Regions from separate parts of the Homo sapiens genome. Here all the other regions are linked to region 1. Evidence: fine-mapped expression QTL. A gene starts in region 1. Each other region holds a variant in brackets. All regions are shown on one strand. Distances are from middle to middle.

Region 1 (6,716 bases):
TACATACATAGATAAACAGATGATGTAACTCCATGAGTTACTATTTAGTAGCCACTTGAACAGCAGATTTACATCTGATTCAACATGTAATAATCATTCAAAACCATTAACTACATGAATACAAAAATAATTATTCCTATACCCAGTAAAAACTGACAATTAGGAGGCATTACAATTCCTGTCTTTAAATTCTGACTCCTTGAAGTCTATACTAGACATGCCCAGGAAAATGCTAAAACCGGCCTGGACAGCTCTGGCCATGATGCACATAGTAACGGCCACCTATTTTGCCATCACGGATGTGTTGTAGGATTAAAAATAGACTTATGCAAGTGACAATTACAAGCCATTTATAACTATAAAACTTAACAAAATAGCTGCCAGTTTGCTGAATCTGAAAAAGAAACCTGTCACATTTACTGAATTAGTTTAACCATAGAATTCAGATGTTAAAAGAAACTAGACTAAAGGAAGAACTTCTACAAGCTCTCCTGTCATAAGATTTTTACAGTTTCTCTTGACTGGAAACATGTAGGTTGCTACAAAAAGTTACTAAAGGAACTTTTATCTCACATCTGCCCTGTTTTCCTGAACTTTACGTAAAGTTCTTAACTAGCTTAACTTAAATTTAACAAACAGGTTGGCTGGGCACTGTGGCTCACGTCTGTAATCCTAGCACTTTGGGAGGCCAAGGCAGGTGGATCACCTGAGGTCAGGAGTTTGAGACTGGCCTGGGCAACATAGTAAAACCTCACTTCTAGTAAAAATACAACAATTAGCCGGGTGTGGTGGCACACGCCTGTAATCCCAGGTACTCGGCAGGCTGAAGCACGAGAATCTCTTGAACCTGGGAAGCAGAGGTTGCAGTGAGACAAGATCGTGCCACTGTACCCCAGCCTGGGCAATAGAGCAAAACTCTGTCTCCAAAAAAAAAAAAAAACAGACAGACAGAAAGAAAGAGGTTGCAGCTGTACTTTTAAAGTATGAAGTAAATTCCAGTTAAGTACATAGGCACCTTTTGTTAGTAATATTTGGAAGTTTCTTGCTGTTTAAATACTTGTCCCATAACAAGCAGTTCGGGGCGGGGGGGTCCCACTGGAAATTCAGGGACTCAATCCGATACTGGAGGGACCCACTAATGAATACGTTACCCATATAACTCTCTTAATAATCAAAATCTATAATAATCCAGGGAGACATTAAAAAAATCCAATCAAAAGAACTGGCAAAAGAATAATAATTATTTAGTCCTTTCCTGGAGAAAGGGGTAGGGAATGTCTCTAAATCAACTTTGTATCCCCTATACTTAATAAGCTATGCCTAAATGCACATGTTGGTACACAGTAGTTAATCAATATGTACCTGTTGAAAAAGTGAAAATATAAACATTCATTTATTATTCTATTAATGATTCCTGGGTATGCTGCGCCAGTGTTCAGAAAAAAAAAAAATCCCACAATTTCTCTAGCAGTGCCATGTAATAAAAAGTTTAAGAACAGAGAATAATGATAGTACTAGATAGATTTAAAAAGAAAACAAAAACACAGAGGATAAGAATTTAGATAATCTTGCTTCAATTCCCAGCTTGGCCTCTATTCTTATCAGTATTTATCTGACATTTGGACTATTTTACAACTCCAGGCACTGGTTCTGCATCTTTTAAGTGGGTATTACAATAATAAAATTATTAGAAAAGAGCCATTTGCATAACAGCTCAAGTAAGCTTAGCACGCAATCTGATTTTCAGTAAATACTCCATAAATGGTCATTGTGGCTAGCTTCATAGTCAAATCCTATGTAAAGAATCACTGATAAATAAATACTGATCTACAAAAACACATCTGTACTTCTGGAAAATAAGTTATTTTAAGTAAGTTCTTAAGCATTACTCTGTTAACTAGTAAACTAATTTTAAAAACAAAACGGTAGTGAGTGAGAATTGCAGTATGGGTGGATATAGACTACAAGGAAGTTGGGTTTTAGTCCTCTCCTTCAAACTTAACTAGGAAAAGTCAAAGCTCAGTCTAGGCTTTAGGTTTCCTATTTATAAAATTCTTTTTTTTCTTTAACGATCCTTCTAACATTTCTAATACAGTGGGGTTCTTAAAACTACAAAGCACATTTCATCAGCAAAGCTCAAAAATATGTGGACAAAATTTTTTTTAATATCAGAGAAAACAAATTCATATTCATTTGAAATAGCATATATTAATGGTGGAGGCAGTGAGATGAAGAATATGTATATAACTGTTAACCTTTAGCTTAAGCTCCAAAACTATAACTTTCTAGGACTGAATTACTGTCCCTAGAGTCACAGAGGAAAAACTGATAATAAAGGCTTTTTACTACAACAAAAAATTTAAAAAAACCTTCCCTACTGCTCTGCAGTAAGAAAAGAAGGTGCCAGCCCCAGAAACTAACCATATTAGAAAAATCTCAGTGAGTGTGTAGTGTTAATAAAATCTGCCTCATGGCAAGTTATTAAATCTTTCTGAAACATTAGAATAAGTAAACATAATTAGTAAAATCTCATTACCCCCAGATCCTGTACAAGTGTGCTATATCTATTACATCATTTTACTGAATTCTACGATACATGTAATTTTAAAGGGAAGGAAAAATAAATAAAAAATAAATGACAACATTAAAAAGTGATTTAAAATAAAGTTTTCTGCCATCAAGAACACCAAAAACCACATAAGAGCAAAAAAGAAGTGGGCTGTATCACATCATGCATTAGTAAAGTAATCCAAGACAGCTTATTTATACAAACCCCAGAAAACGGGGGGGGGGATCTAAATTACAAAGATACATGGTTTCAATAGAAACCATAGGTCTTAACTACATATTAGTAAAAAATCAAGAGCAATTTGAAAGCAGAGAAAAAAAACTTCAAGAAGAGAATGCACTGAAGGGGTTAAATTACACCAACTTACACACAAAAGCTTATACTGCTTACACCCTACAAAAGCATGTAAGAAACATGAAAACCAACATCTAACACAGAAAACACTTAGAAAGCCTGTACTTAAGAATAAAGTTAAAAAAGGAAGTAAGCTGGAAAAAATAAAATCATAACCATTTCATAATCATCACATTTTCAAATTATTCACTCATCACTACACTTGCATTCAACATATATAATTTATCACATAAAAGCAAAATCTCTAAGCTTCTCCCTACCTTAGGTTTTTAGTCAAAATGAATGCAAACAATCACGTGGGATTCAGCCAAGCAGTGACGTTAAATTCTGCTCTGTCAGAGAGAGCATCTGTCAAGCCCACATTTAAACTGCTGCCTGCCTGTGCAGCAGCTGAGGAACCGTGGATTTCATATTATAGACTAAAACCCCATTAAAACTGCTCAAAATCCTTCCTGCAGCTGCCAGGCAACAACGAAAGAAGAGAGGTAAATCCTATTCTTTTCCAATACAACTGAAGCACTACATTTTAGCTCTGGCTGCTTTACATTGCAGCTCAGTGTTATTAGTAGAAATATGGATACTGAGACGAGAACACAGCACTGCATTGTCCAGCCAGGAAAATAGCAGATGTAAAAAGCTTCAATGCATCAACTGTCGGGAAGAGTCAACAGTGCTACAAGCAGAACGGGCAACTACAGCTCTTTTGTTTAACGAAAGAGAGAAAATGAAAGAAAGGGAAAATTTCAGAAGACTAGGACCCATATGAACAAGGAGGGTAACTCGAAGACAAGCAGACAGATGGACACTTTGGATACTGTGAAAAGCAATCGCAGGAGGCAGACTGTTGGGGGATGTGCGCATGTTCGATAGCATCTTTTTTGCTGAAGTGATGGCGTGCCAAAAGTATTTTCAGTGGGCATAATCCTCTTCACATAAATGGCCTGACCAAGGAAGGTATGTCAATATCTTGTGTATGATAGTCATTTAAATGTGTTACCTTTTTATAGCCCTGGAGGCACTAATACCTGATAAGCAAGTTCATACAGCTCACTGCCCTTGAAACTATGAAAAGGTTTCTTAATATCTGATTTTAAAATTTGTCATTGTTTAGAAGACAAGCTGTCACTGCTTTATGCAGCTAAATATGTAGCTTGGAGTAATTCTGGGTAATAGACATCAGAGGGAAAAGGCAAATAAGAAGAAGATGTGTTTAAAGGATTCCTTAAGAAATTAAACTTAAAAAAAAATCTGTAGCCCTTTACAAAAAACACAGCAATATTCTATCAAATTAGGTCAAACTGAATCCTTATCTAGTAAATTAAATGCTCTCTTAAAAATGGCTATCAAAAGACACAATGCAGTGAAATTTCATTAAATAGTAGCAAGGAAAACCTTAAGAGTTTTTTTTTCAAAGTCCTTTTAAAACAAAACCTTAATATGTAACAGCTTTTAGTAACAAAATCTTCCCCAACATCTCCCTAAATGAAGATAATGAACACAACCAAAGAGAGTATCAACAAATTTTAAATATTACCAAGCTACAAGAAGATACTAAAAGGAAAGCATTAACATAAGATCACATAAGGTAGTGTGAGTTTATGCATAACCCCACAATAGAGCCTCGTGTTATTATAGTGACCATGAATAGAACTTTAAACAAAGGGACATCAATAGTGGCTTTAAAAATTAACTATTTTAAATAGCTTACATTTTATGTAAAAGACTGATTCCAAATGATCAAATTTAACGTTGTCTCTGATTATCATTTCAGAAGTGAAATTCAAAAACATAATATGGAAATACTTTGATACAAAAATATCCACAAATGGCAATACAAGGTCAAAAAATTAAATATAAATGTAGCTACTATGCTTCCAGGCTATATTAATATGCAGTAATGAACTACCGCCACTATATGTGTGTGCAGGGCACAGATAAACCAAATAAACTATTTTAGCAACAATCATAGAACAGCAACTCAGGGCTCAAGAACTTAAAGATATTTCTAAAATTCTACAAATCTATCAAAGATCCTGATTTTTCCTCAATTTCACAACACAACTCAGTAATTATCTAATAATCACAAAAGGCAAACATTTTTTAAAAATATGTAAGTACTGCATTCCAAAATGAAGATTAAACAAGTTTACCAGACTCTATTACACCTCAACATCACTCTCACCCATGAATTTTTATTCTAATAAAGACTAATAATAAATAGTACTAAAAAATATGGTTGTAAAAATTTCAAGTCCCTCTTGGTACCTTAATCTCTCAATATTGAAGTCACCAATTAAGCAGTTTTATAAGCTATACATCTCAAAACAAAAGTGTAAGTTTTTCTATTAAACCATCACCAACAGACTAAAGAGATCAACACTTTTAAAAGCCAAATGATAAAAACTGAGTGTGTACTGAACAGCATTTTACAGTAACATTCTCCCCATGAACTTCATCCACAAGCTATAAATACACATTAATAATGTGAAGATATCAAAAAAGAAGAGATAAACCAAAGCTATTTCTCTTCTAAAAATGTAAAAGTGCAGAACTATTTTGCATACTACTGAACTTTCTTGTTTTGCTCTCTCTTTTTAAGAATTAAAATACAACAGGCAATAACTGGAGAATAATTTTATCATTTAATAAAAAGCAGGCATGGTTATTTTAATTTTATATTCTTTTTAACAAAAAAATTTATAAGACCTGAGAATCTTTTAATAAGGAATTTTTTAAAGGCTAGACACATGCACTTCATTTATCAATGGGAGATTTATAGTTATATATGGATTTAATATCTCAACAGCTTAACATCTAAAACATACAAATACCATGAAGTCTAAATTAAGATGCATCTCTATCACATACTGTTACAAAATCATATTAGGACCAAAACTATGTATTTATGCTACATTACAATATGCAATAATTTGCTGTTTTCTGTAATACTAAAATACTTTAGAGACATCTTCAGGTATATTGTTCTTATAAAAGCAACATAAATTATGATTATTTTCCATCATTTATTTACTCAGTCCTTTAACTCAAACATCCATTCAAACATCTGACCTTATTGTTTACTCCTTCTTACACCATCAAATTTACACTTTAAAAAAAATCTGTATAATTGGACTTCAACCAGATTCCAAGTATTATCATATCAGCAGAAAACAGATAACTTATCTTTGTAACACTTAGAACAGATTATCAAATAAATTTTAAAAGCAACTTTTGTTTCTTTTGAATTTACATACATAACCCTTATATCTACTGATATCCTTATGAAGTGGAGCGGAGAGTCATTATTATTTACCAAATATGTCATTTGGAAATAAAAGCTTAAAAATAGTTCCCTGGTCTAAAAAGAATGGCCAGCTATTTAAAAGTACAAGAAGGAAAACACTGAGTTTCTAAATCAGAATGCTCAGCTCTATTATTTTCAGCTTAGCTTACAGCAGAACTATGTTTTGTTGGTACAGTGAATAGCCTTGGTTTTCATTACACTAATGCTGAGTTTAAATTCATATAAACAAATTCTAACAAATAGCATACTAGATGATTTGCTTTTAAAATTCCAAACTTAAAAAAATTGTTCACATCTTTCAAAATGCTTAATTTTTTTACATTTTAGAAATATTATAACTTCTAAAAGTACTCTGTAATCTCAGAAACTAGAAATTTCAAACGCTGGTGCCTATATGGTTGGACCTTAGATATTTGTTCAAATTCCCACCTACTTGCTCCTCCTAGTGGCTGCTACTATAATAGCACTTTCATTCATTTACATCTAACA
Region 2 (6,716 bases), 54 kb before region 1:
TATTCATTTTGAATTTAATCAAATTCATTAAAGGGGCTACATGTAATAACATTCAAGAAACTTACTTTCAAAGTAGTATTCATGTGTAAAATAAATTTGTCAATTAAAAAAAATTTAAAACTCATGCATTCAGTGTAAATCAACATTTTAATCATTTCCATTCTGCTTAGGTGTTGCTTTTCTAACTTGTTCAACTATTTGCTAATCATTCTTCAGAATGCATCTAAGTTACATTTTTTAAAATGATCAAACTGAAGCCATAATGGCCTACAGTCTTCTTTAATAATTTCAACAGATTTCATCTTTATTGATATTTATTTTTCCACCAGAATAGACAACTTTTAAATTTAAAGCTAGGATACTAGAGTCCAAAAAGTGTAAGTCACTAATTTTTAAAAACATATAAAGTTTCACTCATACTTTATTCGCATGAAGCAATGATGCGAAACAAACTTACACCAACATATTATCATTAAAAAAAATCTTTCCTATTCAGAAAAAGTATTAAAAGTTTTTAAGCCTCTGGAAGTTAAAAACAAGAAGTAAGCTGGGCACGGTGGCTCACGCCTGTAATCCCAGCACTTTGGGAGGCCAAGGAGAGCGGATCCTGAGGTCAGGAGTTTGAGACCAGACCAACATGATGAAACCCCGTCTCTACTACAAATAGAAAAATTAGCCAGGCATGGTGGCGTGCACCTGTAATCCCAGCTACTCAGGAGGCTGAGGCAGGGGAACTGCTTGAACCTGGGGGTTGCAGGGAGCCAAGATTGCACCACTGCACTCCAGCCTGGGCAACAGAGCAAGACTCCATCTCCAAAAAAAAAAAAAAGAAGAAGAAGAAGAAGAAAAAGAAATAAAGTTCTTTTGTAAGAAGCCAGTTTTACCGCAGCACAATGAATTACAACTGCAAAATATTTCACACAACTCAGAATTGCTTGTTTTTGCAAACTTCATGAATGCTGCCAACATTTTTTGGGGAAAGCAACAAAGCAAAAGAGATCAAAGAGGTGCCCTTTTAATATTTAGATATACTGATCGCATGACAAATGATAAAGGGATAATACAGAAGATTATTAAATAAAAATATTTTTTCAATGGTAGCTAGCAATAATTTGAAGACATTTATCATTAAAAATATCTTGAGAGGGGCTTCAAGATAGCTAACTAGAGGCATCTGGCACCTGCCTCCTCCAAAAAGAAGAACCACCTTCTGTAAGTTACCAGGAGGGTCAACAAACAAAAAGAACCAAAACAGTGAGTAGATAATCACACTTTGAATAGATGATCTAAGAGAGTGCACTGGAATTCAACAGATAAAGTGAGCAGAAACACCTAAGGCAAGGAAGGAGAAGGGAAGCCAGGATGGGCTCACCAGTGAGATAAGGGTGAGAGACCCCTAATGGTCCACATTCCCACCTCAGACTCCTGCAATCCTAGCCAGGGGAGAGCCACATGACCCTCAGGGGTCCTGACACCAACACAGAAAGCTGCCTAGAGACCACAAGATGCTCCAGATAGGAGGTTCATGCTTGGGTCCTACACATGCCCTAAGCAGCTGCATGCAGCACAGCGCCATTTTGAGGGCTCGGCCCCCACCAGACTGCATCCTACCCTGGGGCCCAAGAGTCCTTACACCCTAAGTCGGGGTGGGGGAAGCACCTGAAGACAGCCCCCCAACCCCTGCAAACCTGCAGACAATGATGATATCTAAGTGCAAGCCACTGGCAGTGACCCCACAACTCCAACAGTCACGTATTTAAAAGCACCCTGAGGACAGATTCTCCCAATCACAGCCACCAACTGGCGGAAGCTCACATGCCCCAGATGCCTGCTTACTGGCCGTTGCCACTGAAAACAACGCTGCTCTCCCCAGCAGCAGGACCCAAGTGCTGGTAGCACACTGCCAAGGACCTGAAGAACACCCCACCCCTGCCTGCGACCTGGAGGCCTGAGGACAGGCCAACTTGGCTGGGCTCTGTCCTCCCCTTCTGCCGCCCTAGCAGTGCCTGAGCACACATTTTGGGGCCTGAGGGTGGCCCTGCAACATCCTCCACTGTTGGCACCTGAGCACTTTTCCCAGGGGCAGAAGACACGCCCAACCAACCTGCCACTACCACCACAACTGTTACCCACCCGCACACACCCCCTGTGGGCCTGCGCACTGTCCTGTCCAGCCCATCAAAGCCACAATTGGTAACAGTGTGGACCTCTGGGGAGCCAGAGGTTGCCCCTTCACTGCTACTGCCATTGCCCACTGCCCAGAAACTTGACCTGCTCACCCTCCAGGCTCACCACTGCCACTGCTGGCACCCAAGATGATGTCTGGACTTACTAGCACAGGTGCCAGCATACGTGGCCTTGGGACTCAAAAACAGGCAGGCTCAGCCTGCTGCTGCCACCACTGGGGCCCAAGGAATAGCCTGCCTGATGTCACTGACCCCAGCAAAACTTCACCACACCCTCCACTAACAAGCAAACCTTAAGCCACTGAGGAAACCA[C/T]AGACACCACTGACGCTGTTTATAGGTTAGAAATTACACAGCCAGTATGAAGAACCAAAGCCAAAGTGCCCCACCCAATCAAAATCATAGGTACATCTTCGGGGAAAAGTCCTCCCCTAAAAAAGCAAATTCAAAAAACTAGAAGAAGCAATGTTTATACCAGATGTGCAGATATCAACATAGGACACAAGAAACAGAAAAAGTAAGAAATTATGATACCTCCAAAAAAAAGAAAAACAGAATAATTCTCCAGCTACAGATCCCAATGAAAAATAAACTTAGGAAATATCAGAAAAAGAATTCAAAATAATGATGTCACAGAAACTGAGTGGAATACAAGAGAACACAGAAAAACACTGGAGAACTGCTTCAGGACACTGGTCGAGGCAAGGACTTTATGGCTAAGACCTCAAAAGCACAGGCAACAAAAATAGATGGGATTATATTAAAGTAAAAAGTTTCTGTACAGCAATGGAAACAATAAACAATGTGAAGAACAACCTGTTGAATGGGAGAAAATATCTGCAAACTATTCTTCCAACAAGGGACTAATATGCAAGAAACTCAACAATTAAAAAAAAATCCCATTAAAAAGTGGGCAAAGGACATGAACAGAAATTTCTCAAAAGGTAACATACAAATAAATGGCAAACAAATATATGAAAAAATGTTCAACATCACTAACCATCAGGGAAGTGCAGATCAAAACCACGATGAAATATCATCTTACCCCAATTAGAAGGGTTATTACTAAAAACAGAGTAACAGATGCTGGCAAGGATGCAGAGAAAAGGGAACTCCTACACTGTTGGTGGAAATATAAGTTAGTAGAGCCACTATGGCAAACAGTATGAAGATTTCTCAAAACTAAAAACAGAACTACTGGATGATCCAGCAGTCCTACTACTGGGTATTTTTCAAAAGGAAAGAAAATCAGTTTATCAAAGGGATACTTGCACCCCTTGTTTACTGTAGCACTATTCACAACAGTCAAGATCTGGAATCAACCTAAATCCATCAACAGATGAATAAAGAAAATGTAGTATATATACACACTGAAATACTGTGTGGCCATAAAAAAGAATGAAATCCTGTCATCTGTGGCAAGGCGACATGGACAGAACTGGAAGGTCATTCTATTAAGTGAAAGAAACCAGGCACAGAAAGACAAATTTTCCTATGTTCTCACTTTTATGTGGGAACGTTAAAAGTTGATCTCATGGAGGTAGACAGTAAAATGATAAGATACTAGAGGGTTGGAAGGGTGTGTGTATGTGTGTGGCAGGAGGGAAGGAGAGGGATGAAAGGTGGTTGATTAATGTGTACAAACATACAGGTAGAAGAAATAAATTCTTTTTTTAATTTCTAACTTTTAAGTTCTGGGGTACATGTGCAGGACTGTTACACAGTTAAACATATGCCATGGTGAACAGCTGCACAAAGGAATAAATTCTAATGTTCAAAAGCAGAGTAGGAGGCTATACTTAACAATAATGTATTATATATTTCTAAACAGCTAGAAGAGATGACTTGAAATGTTCCCAAAACACAGAAATAATAAACACTCAAGGTGATACATACCCTAAATACTGACTTGATCATTACACATTCTATCCATGTAACAAAATATCACATGTACACCATAAATATGTACAAATATTATGTATCAACAAAAAAAAATTTTAAATGTCAACCAACAAATAAATATAGCCACGTCAAGTATAACATATCTAAAATATATCCAGATATCAGCTTAAACTTATTCTAAATTTGTAAAGATTTTATTTGGCAATTTTATGCAAATCAGTATTTAATCTTCTCTCAAACGATGTATTTCATTATAATTATGCAACATTAACAAAATATAATATAATTTTCTATCAAGGCCCACAGAGATGCTCCCAAATACCCTCAGTTTTCCCCCAATGCTGTACAGTGTAATCTGATGGAGAAAACAACTGGAAGCCAGAAGAGTGAAAGCAGAAAGATCAACCAAGAGCTAAGATAATATACTCCCAAGTTTCTGGCTTAGGCAAATTACTGAAAAGGACTAACAGATAATAAGAAATAGTTTGAGGAATAAGGAAGAGAGTAAAACCATCAATTCCATTTGGAAAAGGTTGAGTTTGATGTACCAATGAGATATCACAGAGAAGTTATCTCATAGTGAGTGAGGTATATAGGTCCAGAATATTGAGCTAAAGACATAATTTTTAGAATGAGGGAATATAAATGGTAATTGAAAGCTATGAGATCTTCTTGAGAGGGTATTTAAAATTATGGGAGAAGAGAAATAGGGACATAACCATATACATTTGATCCTTGAACAATACAAGTTCCAATTGAGTGGGTTCATTTATACATGGATTTTCTTCCGCCTCTGCCACCTGGGACAGCAAGACTAACCCTTCCTCCTCCTCAACCTACTCAATGTGAAGACAATGAAGATGAAGACCTTTATGATAACCCACTCCCACTTAATGAACAGTAAATGTATTTTCTCTTTCTTACGATTTTCTTAACGTTTTCTTTTTCTCTACTTACTTTATCATAAGAATACAGTATACAATGCTAACATGTAAAATATTTGTTAATCGACTGTTTATGTTATCAGTTAAGGCATCCAGTCAACAGTAGGCTATTAGTATGTATGTTTGGGATAAGTCAAAAGTTATATGGGAGTTTTCAACTGCATGATATTGAAGGGTCCATTCCAGTTGATAACCAGAGGAAAAGTAGCAAGAAAATCTGAGACAAAGTGTAACAGGTACTTGGAAAGTAACTTAAAAAGGAGTAAAGGAGTCAACAGAATCAAATTCTGGTAAGTTAACAGTATCCAATATTTGAGTCACTGGTGACTTCAGTGAAAACAGCTTTAGTACAGAGCAAGAGCCAGACTACAGGGGATATGAACAGAAAATGAGTTGGTAGAGACAATTCTTTCCAAAGTGCAGCTATAAAAGGAAAAAGAAGAAGCTAGGGGAAAGGGTGAGGTCAACGGTAAGGGTTTTGTTTTGTTGTTTAAGAAGGAAGGGGAAAGAGTATTCTTAAACGCTGAGAAAAAGGAGTCAGTATAGAAGGAACAGGTGAAAGAGAAAGAACAGTTCATGAAAGTAAATCACTGATGATTGTTAAAATTCTCTAAATTCTTATCTAAATTTCAGAAGACTAAATTTGAACAAAAATTAAAACTTTATATTCTTAATGAATTTCATACAACATTTATATCTTAAAGACATCCTAATCATTTTTTGTTGAAACATTATTCAACAAGGCAAGCAAGTAGGTAAAAAAGAATTCTCGTTGACATTTTACTTTCATTAAAATTCTCATTCCCTTTTTATTTAACTTCCCATTTACCAACTCTGTGTATCACTCAAGTTTCAGAAATAACATAAAAAGCTATCATAATGTCAGTTGCCGGGCCCAACCTGCAGATCCTGGCCGAACGACAGAAGGAAAATGTACGCAGACACAGGTTTTTTCCTGGACGTGCAGCTAGGGGACTGGGCCACTCACAGACGTCGAGGAGGATGCCGTAAAGAGTCACAGCAGCCGCAGCCCTGACATGCCAGCATCTTTTTATTACAGATTTAATGACAAAGGCTTTGAGTCAACACACTTGTGGGTAATTAACGTGGTCACCACTGCCTCGCCACCCCACCACACCACCTCCAACCCGCCACCCCTACCTCCCGACTCCTGCAGTTGATTAAAGGCCACGTTCTGGGAGGCCTAAGTAAACTAACTTATCTAGATCAATTTCTTTACATCCCCAGGTTATCTAATCTTTGCTATCAGGCTCCGGGTAAGAGAATCCAGTTGACTTCAGCCAAATTATCTTTCAAAGCTTTTGCAAAACCTCCCAGCCTTCCAAGAAGGTTTGCATCTTTTTTCTATTTCTCCCACCACCCTGACCAATTTCCTACAGTCAGTAATATTAGAATTCTTTTTTTTTAAATGAATGAAGGTAACAGAAGAACAAATGACTAAAACTTTCAAGCTTGGGTATTTTCTAAGGAAAAATGATGGTACCACTAACAAAAACTGGGGCTGCTAAAAACATAAGACATTTCAGAATTGTACAATTGACATTCATAATAACTAATGGGTGGATCACAAGGTCAGGAGATTGAGACCTTGTGAAGCCCCCTCTCTACTAAAAATACAAAAAATTAGCCGGGCGTGGTGGCGGACGCCTGTAGTCCTAGCTACTC
Region 3 (6,716 bases), 250 kb before region 1:
AGACACAAACACTGCGGAAGGCCGCAGGGTCCTCTGCCTAGGAAAACCAGAGACCTTTGTTCACTTGTTTATCTGCTGACCTTCCCTCCACTATTGTCCTATGACCCTGCCAAATCCCCTTCTGCGAGAAACACCCAAGAATGATCAATAAAAAATAAAAAAAATAAAAATAAAAATAAAAAAAATAAAAAAATTTAACAGATTTAAATAATTAAAAAGAATCAAACAAAAATTCTAGAGCTGAAAAATGTAGTTTACATGCTGAAGAACGCATCAGTCTCTTAACAACAGAATTGATCAAGTCAAGTAGTTCACTTGGTAAAGGAAAATTAGTGAGCTTGAAGACAGGCTATTTGAAAATACACTGTGAGAGGAAACAAAAGAAAAAAGAATAAGAAACAACAAAGCACAACTACAAGATCTAGAAGATAGCCCCAAAAGGACAAATCTAAGAGTTATTGGCCTTAAAGAGAAGGTAGAGAGAAAGACGTAGAAAGTTTAATCAAAGGGATAATATTAGAAAATTTCCCAAACCTGGAGCAACACATCAACATTCAAGCACAAGAAGGTTATAGAACACCGGCCGGATTTAACCCAAAGAAGACTGCCTCAGGGTATTTAATAAAAAAGATTTATCAATAATATCAAAATCTAGAGAGATAATGAATGGGGTAAGTTCTTGGTGATCTTTGGAGGAGTCAGTTTGAGAAACACAGCACCATCAATTGCCAGATTGCAATGGGTTAAATGGTGGTGAGGAAGCCAAAGCTGGAAATGTAACTCATCCTTTGCAGCAGTTCATGCAGCTATGATTCTTGTGGAACATATGTAGCAGTATCCTTGACTATGGAACCTAAGTTGAACAATATGCAAATGCCCCTGCAAACAGAAGTTGTCTTATAGAAATAGATCAGCAAAGAATCTAAGTCAGTTTGGGGGGTGTTAGGCCATTCTTGCATTGCTAAACAGAAATACCTGAGACTGGGCAATTTATAAAGAAATGAGGTTTAATTGGCTTGTGGTTCTGCAGGCTGTACAGGAAGCATGACGCTGGCATCAGTTCAGCTTCTGGGGAAACCTCAGGAAATTTACAATCATGGTGAAAGACAAATGGGGAGCAGACACATCACATGGCCAGAGCAGAAGCAAGAGAGGGAGAGGAGAGGTAACACACACTTTTAAATGACCAGATCTCACTCACTATCATGAGGACAGCACCAAGGGGATGGTACTAAACCATTCATGAGAAATTCACCCCCATGAACAAATCACCTCCAACCAGGCCCCACCTCCAATATTGGGGATTATAATACAACATGAAATTTGGATGGGGACACAGATCCAATCCATATCAGGAGGAGTTCCTTTCTTATTATAATTATCAAATTCTGCCTTATATTAACTTACATGTGGGCCAATCTTTTGCCTCTACTCTCTCCTCCTTGGGGGAACTTAGGACATCAGCTGCATCTATTAAAATGTCTTCTTCAGGCTGGAGACAACAAAGTAAAAAGTCAAAATTAAATTGAATAAGTAATTTCTAAAATGTAAACATATACAGTGACCTAATCGAATGAATGGCATAGAGCTGTCAAGTGTGATGCTAGAAAATTCCATCAGCTGACCTTGAACCACCTTTAATTTGATCTCTGGTCTCCACAGTGAGTTCTCCTTCTAGACACATACTCTCTTAATAGCAAGGGCACTATTTTTCTGAGTGCATGTGTGCAACAAATTTACCTTCTGTTATTAAAGCCTTACTACTCTTTGTCTTTCTGGCCTACTAATGGCCTTAGTAATATGATGCATTCATAATTTTTGATTAGATTTGAACCCAGGTGGCCTATATATATGACATACAATTAAACTGTATTAGTTTTGATAATGCTAATTCAGAACTTCCCCTATTCAGGTGTACAATTGAGCTTACCTTTCTGTTCTTCAGGAGAAAACATTTTTATAATTAATTCAAACTCTCATCTAGATGACAATGTGTTTTTTTTAAATAAATTAATTAAAAGAATGGAAAACTTTTCAAATTGTCAATCTCTTTTCACCTTTAAAATAAGCAAAGTGATTGGGTTTCAAACAGTTAAAATGCAGATTCCTGCATTCCACTCCAAACCTACTGAATTAGTATCAGAATTTTAAATCTATACATGTAAAAATCTCCCTAGTAAATCTCCCTAATTAATCTTATGATTAATCAAGATGAGACCACTGTACTAAATTATATTTAAAGATTCCATATTAGTCAATTTAGCCTAAGTTATGCTGTGGCAACAAATTACTCCAAAGTCTCAGTAATTTACAAGGAATAAAAGTTTATTTCTTATTCACTTAATACACATATTCTTATTCTTAATACATGTATATTATAGTTCAACTAAGACTCTGCTCCAGGTCTATCATCTTCACTCCAGAGCTCAGGCTGACAGTGTAGCTTTACTTGGAACTTTGCCTGCCTTAACCAGAGGAAAAAAATAATACAGAAAATCATGAGTTGTCACATGGCCACTCCTGAACTCAACAGAGTAGGGCTGTATAATCTTTCAGGGAGAGGAAATGAGTAATTGTCTACCACTGGGGCCTCCAACTCTAAAAGCTGAACAATAACATTAATGGCTTCCATGTAGATATTAAAAGTGATATTGATAAGAGTTTTCTTTTTAACGTCTTTATTGAGGTATAATTGATATACAAATAATTGTACATATTTAATGAATACAATCTGATGGGTTTGGACACATGCATACGTATGTGAGACCATCACCACAATCAAAGTAATAAACATGTTCATCACCCCCAAAAGTTTCCTCATGCCACCTTGTAGGTGTTTGTTTGTTTGTTACGTTTTATTTTATGGTAAAAAACACAACATGATATCTACCCTCTTAACAAAATGTTTAACTGTTGATATGGTTTGGCTGTGT[C/G]CCCACCCAAATCTCACCTTGTAGTTTCCATAATCCCCAGGTGTCCTGAGAGGGACCCAATGGGAGGTAATTTAATCACTGGGGAGGTTACCCTTATGATAGTGAGTGAGTTCTCATGAGATTTGATGGTTTTCTAAGGGGCTTTTCCCTCTTTTGCTCAGCACTTCTTCTTGCTGCCACCATGTAAAGAAGAACGTGTTTGCTTCCTCCTCCACCATAATTGTAAGTTTCCTGGGCCTTTCCCAGTCCTATGGAACTGTGTTTCAATTAAATCTCTTTCCTTCCTTGCAGCATGAGAACAGACTAATACAGTAAATTGGTACCAGAAGTGGGGTACTGCTGAGAAGCTAACCAAAAATGTAAAAGTGACTTTGGAACTGGGTAACAGGCAGAGACTGGAACAGTTTGGAGAGCTCAGAAGAAAATAGGAAAATGTGGGAATGTTTGGAACTTTCTAGAGACTTGTTGAATGGCTTTCACAAAAATGCTGATAGTGATATGGACAACAAAGCCCAGGCTAAGGTGCTCTCAGATGGAAATGAGGAACTTGGGAACTAGAGTTAAGGTCACTCTTGCTATGCAAAGAGACTGGCGGATTTTGCCCCTGCCCTAGCGGTCTCTGAAACTTTGAACTTGAGGGAGATGTTTTAGGGTATCTGGCAGAAGAAATTTCTAAGTGGCAGAGCATTCAAGAGGAAACAGAGCATAAAGGTTTGAAAAATTTGTAGCCTGAAGATGAGGTAGAAAATAAAATCCCATTGTCTGAGAAGAAATTCAAGCCAGCAGCAGAAATTTGCATAAGTAACAAGGAGCCAAATGCTAATTGCCAAGACAATGGAGAAAATGTCTCCAGGGCATGTCAGAGACCTTCACAATAGGGCATGTCAGAGACCTTCACAACAGGGCATGTCAGAGACCTTCACAGGCCCAGAGGCCTAGGAGGGTAAAATGGTTTCCTGTGCTGGGTCCAGGACCCCTGTGCTATGTACAGCCTTAGACTTGGTGCCCTGCATCCCAGACGCTCCAGCTATGACCAAAAGGAGTCAACATACAGCTCAGGCCATTTCTTCAGAGTGCAGGCCCCAAGCCTTGGCAGCTTACATGTGGTGTTGGGCCTGCAGGTACACAGACATAACAAGAATTGAGGTTTTGGAACCTCTGCCTAGATTTCAGAGGATGTATGGAAACACCTGGATGTCCAGACAAAGGTGTGCTGCAGGGGCAGAGCCCTCACAGAGAACCTCTTCTAGGGCAGTGCAGAAGGAAAATGTGGGGTGGGAGCCCCCACACATGGGGCACTGCCTAGTGGAGCTATGAGAAGAGGGCCATGGTCCTCTAGACCCCAGAATGTTAGATCAACCCACAGCTAGCACCATGCACCTGGAAAAGCCACAGACACTCAATGCCAGCCCATAAAAGCAGCTGGCAAGGGGGCTGTATCCTGCAAAGCCACAGGGTCGAGCAGCCCAAGACTATGGGAACCCACTTCTTGCATCAGTGTAACCTGGACGAGACATGGAGTCAAAGAGATCATTTTGGAGCTTTAAGATTTGAGTGCCCCACTGGATTTCAGACTTGCATGGGACCTGCCATCTCTTTTTTTTGGCCAATTTTTTTGGCCAATTTCTCCCATTTGGAATGGCTGTATTTACTCAATGCCTATACTCCCATCGTACCTAGGAAGTAACTAACTCGTTTTGATTTTACAGGCTCATAGGCAGAAGGGACTTGCCTTGTCTCAGATGAGACTTTGGACTGTGGACTTCTGATTTAATGCTGAAATAAGATTTGCGGGGACTGGTGGGAAGGCATGATTGGTTTTGAAATTTGAGGACATGAGATTTGGGAGGGACCAGGGGTGGAAAGGTATGGTTTGGCTGTGTTGCCACCCAATTCTCATCTTGAATTATAGTTCCCATAATCCCTACGTGTCCTGGAAGGGACCCAGTGGGAGGTAATTGAATCATGGGGGTGGTTACCCTCCTGCTGTTCTTGTGATAGTGAGTGAGTTCTCATGAGATCTGATATTTTTATAAGGGGCTTTTCCCACTTTTTCTCAGCACTTCTGCTTGCTGCTGCCATATGAAGAAGGACGTGTTTGCTTCCCTTCTACCATTATTGTAAGTTTCCTGGGGCCTCCCTAGCCCTGTGGAACTGTGAGTCCATTAAACCACTTTTCTTCATAAATTACCCTGTCTTGAGTATGTCCTTATAACAGCATGAGAACAGACTAATACAAGTGTACAATACAGTATTGTTAAATATAGGCACTGATAACCTATAGGTCACATTTGACAGGCTTCCAAATTAACCAGCTGGGGGAGGTCTTATGATTCATGGCTTACATCCTGTCACTAAGTAAATAATCTTATTGTGAGTCCCTCAAATTGTTGATGTACTGATTAATATGTAACCTACTGACACTGAAAAGGACAGTCATTTATGTCTGAACCATGAAGTTTTGTTGATTTGTTTCTGAATCACGAAGTTTTAATGATTGTCTTGCATGTACACATTTTAGCCTATATGTTGCATATGTATTCTACCCTCCAAAGAAAAAGGACAACTCTGATATGAGGAGCCCCCCTCACTTCTCCTAAACTTTCTTATAAAAGCCTTCCAATGTGTAACAGACTGAAACACACCTAACTTTGTGGGTGTGTCTTCCCAGGCCAATCCTCACATTTGGCTTCCAATAAACTTTTATCAAATTATTTCTGCTTTAACAACCTTTATATTTTGGTCAACAGTACTACGTTGCAGAACAGACCTCTGGAACTTATTCATATTACATAATCAAAATTTTAATGATTCCTATACTAGTTTGTTAACCTTGATTCTTAAGTTGGGCTCTTCTAAAAGCAGATGCTTAGACAAGGACTCAGAGGCAGATAGACAATTTGGAAGGTAAACTCAGAAAGACAGGTAAGAAAGTTAGGAAAGTGAGACAGGGAAGGTAGAAAAATGAATAAAAAGCAAGAGGAGCTCAGTCTAGCTGGAGATCCTCTGAGAAACCCCAGAGCCAAACTTCAGGACCCCAGGACCCTATCACTACAAGACAGGGAGGCTACGGCATGTGTCCACCACTGCCACCCCTATAGATTAAGGATTGCCTCCCAGGGATTAGCTCCCTCAAACTTTCTGGTTTATCTTTTACAGCTGAGCAAGCTCTAGTAACAATGAGAAAGCCCTCAGGGAAAGGGAAATATGCAGTTGCTTAAGGTGGGAATCTGTCAGTGGGTTGGGACTGTACATGGGTATAATAAAAATCAGGGAGCCCACAGGATATGGGAGGTGCATCAACAGCATTTGTTATACCCAGTTCCAAATTGACCTTTATTTGCTATTGGATATTTTGTTATCACACATTTCATTTTTAAGGTCAATCTGACCTGTCCCACAGTTAGTCCAAATCATTTTCTTTCTCTATTCACTATTAGTACTTAATAATGCCTTTGGTTTCACCTCAAGCATCAACTCAAATTAAATGTGAGTGTCTACCTGAGATACGTGTCAAGAAAAACCTGAGGTCAAGTTTGGTGCACAGTGACCAATTAAGTGTTTTTCATGGACAAAGGACAAAGAATATGGTTAGATTTGCCATATATCTGTTATCCTTTGAGTGCAGTAGTGGGGAAAAAAGTCTGTGCTAAGTAAACATTCCTGATTGCAACTTAAGGCATTGTAATAATTATTTAGATTGCTCACACAGGGAAGAAGTTTCAGAAATAATTACCTATGAATTTAATTCTACAAATTTAAACAAGATATGAGGGTGTGGGA

What was found.
Region 2: its variant is fine-mapped to the expression of B3GALT2 in whole blood (TOPMed, PIP above 0.99).
Region 3: its variant is fine-mapped to the expression of B3GALT2 in whole blood (TOPMed, PIP 0.96).

What each region holds. Positions count from the first base shown.
Region 1 is chr1:193,183,180-193,189,895 of GRCh38, reverse strand. B3GALT2 (beta-1,3-galactosyltransferase 2) reads left to right here and starts at 3,283. Exons shown (of 2, transcript NM_003783.3): 1 at 3,283-3,877. All of the region lies in intron 10 of CDC73 (cell division cycle 73), which reads right to left.
Region 2 is chr1:193,237,069-193,243,784 of GRCh38, reverse strand. The region is part of intron 15 of CDC73 (cell division cycle 73); the gene reads right to left. Among named protein-coding and RNA genes, the nearest start is that of B3GALT2, 54 kb to the right of the region's middle. The variant C/T (reference allele first, on the strand shown) is at 2,500.
Region 3 is chr1:193,430,340-193,437,055 of GRCh38, reverse strand. No RefSeq gene overlaps it. Among named protein-coding and RNA genes, the nearest start is that of LINC01031, 130 kb to the right of the region's middle. The variant C/G (reference allele first, on the strand shown) is at 2,934.